Regions from separate parts of the Homo sapiens genome. Here region 2 is linked to region 1. Evidence: fine-mapped expression QTL. Tissue or cell type: whole blood. Region 1 holds a variant in brackets; the other region holds the start of a gene. All regions are shown on one strand. Distances are between the middles of the regions.

What was found. PIP is the estimated chance that this variant, and not a neighbour inherited with it, causes the effect.
Region 2: LY9 starts here. The variant in region 1 is fine-mapped to the expression of LY9 in whole blood (TOPMed, PIP above 0.99).

The regions. Positions count from the first base shown.
Region 1 is chr1:160,829,281-160,831,912 of GRCh38, forward strand. CD244 (CD244 molecule) reads right to left here. Exons shown (of 9, transcript NM_016382.4): 9 at 880-2,147. The coding sequence ends at 2,067. Among named protein-coding and RNA genes, the nearest start is that of CD244, 32 kb to the right of the region's middle. The variant A/G (reference allele first, on the strand shown) is at 1,489.
Region 2 is chr1:160,794,557-160,797,188 of GRCh38, forward strand. LY9 (lymphocyte antigen 9) reads left to right here and starts at 1,618. Exons shown (of 10, transcript NM_002348.4): 1 at 1,618-1,755. The coding sequence starts at 1,632.

The sequences.
Region 1 (2,632 bases):
TACTTGACTTATATTCGTGATACTCTAGTGTACATTTCTGTTACCATCACCTTGCAGCCCATCTAGGTCCTTTAATTGTGTGCTGCCTCTGTCATGCTCTCCTGCACATGATCCTGAACTCAGTATGGCTTCTGTCACCTGCAGTGGGTACTCCCAGGAGTTCAGGCAGTGCTTCATACACAGCAGGAGCTTAATTACTGCTTGTTCATTGACTGGCTTGTTGCATGGATAATTATCTTTGTGAGGCATTGTCACGGAAGCTCAACAATCAGACACATAACATGATGACCTTGTACATCTTTCTTTCTAGAATACAGCATCCTCAAAAGCCCTGACCCCATAGGGTCTCTTCTGCTCCTTAAATAAATCTGGCCAGTTCAAGATCTATGCAGGACACATGAAAGGCCAGCAGCAGTCAATGGTCAGAGTCCCTGGTGTTCATCTGGACTGTTTCTGAACCCCGTCATTTCCTGCTGCCTCTACTCACTAAACTCCTTGACTCTGCAACTCAACTCCCAGTACCTGCCTTGGACCCCCAGGCTCTTTCTGAATATATTTGCCTGGTTTTTAAGCTTCTCACTTGCTTTAAGATGTGGTCTGTTCACACTTCTCTCCAGGAGGAAACCAGCCTGGCCAGCAGCACAGTCTCAGGGGAAAGGGATCCTGCAGGATGTGACCAAGTGAGTGCCTTGGCTCTCCTTCACAAGATGGAATAGCCCCTAGTGTCTAGTTCTCTGCTGTCCCAGTGTGAACAGGGCTGAAGGACACTGCCAGCTCACCAGGAAGTCAGACCCTCTACAGCAGTGTTCAAACAGACATGTGTTTGTTGATGGCCCACAAGTGCCCTTCGGCTGCTATAGAGAATAAAAATGCAGGGTATGGAGAGGATACATAAATTTAATTCAGGCAAGGAATTCAGACTGCATCTGCATGATATCACCGTTTTATATGAAACTCCTATGTTAGATACAGGGTAGGAAAATTGAAGAACCAGGCTTTGTGCAGTATCACCTGTTGGGGTCTCTGAGTAAGTCCTCTCCCAGTTCACCCTTGTCGCTTTCCTGGGCTCAGCCAGAGTCACAGCCCTGCTCCCCACAGCCTTGTTGAAATGTCTGGCCTGACGACTCAGGGAACCCAGCATAGTGTCTAGATTCCAACTGCCTCATTCTCAGCCCTCAGCTGCCTGAGCCCTCCCTTCAATGTGCATCCTGGGGAACACTCATCAGGACTCAGAACTTAAATAGAACATGGTTTCTGAGAGGCCTCTTCCTCTGGGAAGCCACTTCTATGAAGAAGCCAAATGGATTTCTAACAATGCGTCTTCATAAATCAAACATCATACCATGGACAAAGCTGGTCTCAACACCCCAGTTATCAGGTCAGCATGTGCTCTGGGTGATTTTTCTACTTAGAGATGGGCTTGCTTTGCACCATCTACTCTCCCTTCAGCCCACTCCCCCTGGTGGCCAACTGGCCAGAGGTAAAGGT[A/G]TGAGATGCAGGGAGAAAGTTTTTTCTCTGCAATTGAGTAAAGCCCAGGCCCTGGCCCCCACCCACGTGCAGAACCTGCCAGCCAGTTCACAGCCGGACAGTCCAGGCTTTCAGAGGAGGGCTGTTTCTTCTTCCCCTGAGTCACCATTATCATTCCTTCCTCTTGCTTTGGAAGATGGGCCTGGGCCGGCGAGAGTCTAGAAATGCAGTCAACCCAGAGAGGGGAGAAAAGGAAACAAGTGACAGCTTGAAAATCAGGTGGAGGGAATCTCGATGCTAATAACATCACTTACATAACACTTTCTAGATTACAAATACTTGGAATGTGGCCTTTTGTGAACAACCTAACCCCTCCACCCATTCATGTCTGATCTGTAAATTGGAAGATATTATTTAACAGCCTTGCTCTTATCATGGTTGTTAGACATCATTTTCAAAACAAAATATAGAACAAGAACAAATTTCCATATCCTCTCCAGACTAGGAACTGTTCTATAGAGACTCCTGTGCCGTCATCCACTGTGCCAATTCCCAAAGCAGATGCTGATGTGCAAGAAAGGTGAGAATTGCTGCAGCAACTAGGAATAAACATCAAAGTTCTCCAGCTCTTTGCGGCTCAATCGAGCAGGGTTCTGGGCTTTAGGTTGACTCTTTCCAATCTGCAAAAGAAAAGGAGAAACTTCAGACCCTTGCACTGGGAGGTCCTTATCACAATCCTGTGAGGTATGACTTGCCATCCCCATTTTACAGATTTAAAAAATGAAGCTCAGAGTGACAAAACAAATTACTCAGGATCCACGACTAGTGTGAAGTGCAGGAGGGACTTGAATCTAGTTCTTCTGGCTCCAATTCCAGTACTCTCTTAACCACATATGCTTTTTCATGACCTCACAAGCTACCTGGGTCTACACAGTGCCCTCTATGACCCTGGGTTGTCCAGTTGGCTTTAATGTTGGGTGATAGCTGAAGTGCCAGGAATTCCAGCAGGCAGCCACCCATCCCTCCCTTCTGACCAATGGCAGCATCTTTATTGGACCACAGGTGGGGAGGCTCAGGTGTAGTATGAGGCTAATGGGTAGTGGGGGAGGTTGGGGGATGCTCTCCATGCCTTAATTTCTCTGAGTATAAATGGAAAGTATAATTA
Region 2 (2,632 bases), 35 kb before region 1:
ATTTTCGAGATTCTGTCACTTTCAATATTGTGCAACATCAGATCATGACCAGCCTCTAAAGATGCTTTCCATGGACATAAGCCTGTTATCTTAATGGTTTCTCTCTCTCTCTCCCTTCTTCCTTTGAACCCAGACTTCCTGGGTTCAAGTCCTTACTAACTATAAAACTTATAGTAAGCTATTTAACCCCTCTCCACCTCAGTTTTCTCATTTATAGAATGGGGATGATAAAAGATATCTCATAAAACTATTGTAAGATCAAATGAGTGAATATGTTAAAGTGTCAGAAGATGGACTAGCACTCTGTAAGCTTTCATCGAATATTAGCTAAAACTACACATTCTGCCAGCCTCAAGTTTTCCTGCCAAGTCCCCTTAATGTTACAGCCTAAGTAAACAAATGACCTGAAGCCCGAAACACAAACCATAGCATGGCCAGCTATTACGCTACTGACAAGAAGAAGGAGGAGAAAAAGACAGTTTCCCAAGTCAGGATATAGGGAATCATGCCATTCTCCAGCCTACCTTTTCAACTCAGTCACCTCTACGCTGTCACATACGATGTCCACCCCCATTGCAGTCTCCCTGATGCCTTTGTCCATATTAAAAGTCCTTCATTGCATGTGACAGAAAGCTAGCACAAACTGCCTTGAGCAAAATAGAAAATGTATTGGGTCACTGTATTAGTTATCTGTTGCTGTGTAACAAATTGCCCCAAACTTCACAGCTAAAAACAATAAGCATTTTTGATGAAAAATAAAAAATTGAAAAAAAATTTAAAAACCAAACATTTATTATCTCACAGTTTCTCTTGATAAGGAATCTGGGCATGGCTTAGCTGGGTGCCTCTGGCTTAAGGTACTCACACAACTAACATCACGGTGTCAGCCAGGGCTGCAGTCATTTCAAGGACCTCCTGGGGAGGATCCACTTCCAGTCTCACTCATGTGATTCTTGGCTAGCCTCAGTCCTCATGGACAGTTGGCCAGAGGAATCAGCTCCTCGCCGATTGTTGGCTGGGGGCCTCCCTCTGTTCTTTGTTTTGGAACCCTCTCCCTAAAGTATCTCACAAAACAATACCTGGCTCCCCTCAGTGTAAGGTAGGGAGACAGAGATAGTGGGAAAGACAGAGAGGGAGAGAGGGCAAGAGAAAGAGAGAGCGCATATGCACACACATGCTAACCCAAGATGGAAGTCACAGCTTTTTTGTAACCTAATCTCAGAAGTGACCCATCCCACATCTCTGCCACATTCTATTCACTTGAAGCAAGTCACTAAATCCAGGCCACACTAAAGAAGAGGTGATTACACAGAGGCATGAATGCCAGGAGGTACAGATCTTTAGCAGTCACCTTTAGGAGCCAAATTTAGAACCCAAGTCCCTTGATGTCAAAGCAAGTGATGCTCCACATCAGTCACAAATGAGGCCCTGAATAGACTTGGGACCTCTACCTGCCTGCGCAGATGGGAGGAGTCTGTGGTGTTTTGTATAAACAACCCTCCCTCTGAGACACACACACATACACATACACATGCACACACACACTCATATACACATGCAGAAGCTGTGACACGTGCGGAAGCTGTGGTAAGTGCATCCTCCTTCAGTCTCAGTTCTGAAAATAGATCATCATGGTGGCACCAAAGAGTCACACAGATGACTGGGCTCCTGGGCCTTTCTCCAGTAAGCCACAGAGGAGTCAGCTGCAAATATTCTCTTCTGTTCTACAGACCTCTCTCCTCTTCCTGCTCATGGGTAAGTCCACTTTATGGCCACCACTTCTTGCTACTGCGGTTCTTCTGAGGCCAGTTGCATTCCCTGCCTGGGAGATTCTTTTTTTTGTTTTTTGTTTTTTTTAACGGAGTCTCACTCTGTTGCCAGGCTGGAGTGAAGTGGCGCAATCTCGGCTCACTGCAACCTCCACCTCCTGGGTTCAAGCGATTCTCCTACCTCAGCCTCTTGAGTAGCTGGGATTACAGGTGCATGCCAACACACCCAGCTAATCTTTGTATTTTTAGTAGGGGCAGGGTTTCACTATGTTGGCCACGGTGGTCTCGATCTCTTGACCTCGTGATCTGCCCAGCTCAGCCACCTGAAGTGCTGGGATTACAGGCGTGAGCCCAGTTCTTGTTGGTAAAATCGGGAAACTCATCTCCTTGCCAGAAATTACTTTGCATGTGTGCATATTCGTGCACTATGAAGGGGGTAACATTCTAGCCCCGGTCTCAAATAGCTCTGGGCTCAAACTACATTTCTCTTGCCCTCACATTTTCCTAAGAAATGCCAAGTATATAATGAGTTTGTTCCCTGTATGGTGTGGATAAAACCCACAGAGGGATCCAGGAAAATCCCCTGATGAGAAGCCACCTAGCAATTTCCTAGGGATGGAGAGAACTTCTGGAGCTTCTTTCTATGTATCCTGCCTTGGTTATCATATATGCTGGCTTTATTACTGAGGTTTCACTGGGGACCTGGACGCGGTTAGGTGACCATGGGCAAGGTGGCGTTTATCTGGATATCCTTTTCTCCTCAACCTTATTCCTCCCTATCAAGGCCCAACTCCTGGGAAACATCTCTCCGCTGCATGGCCCGGAACCCCACTGTCCAGCAGATAGAGCCAATCCAGTACCCC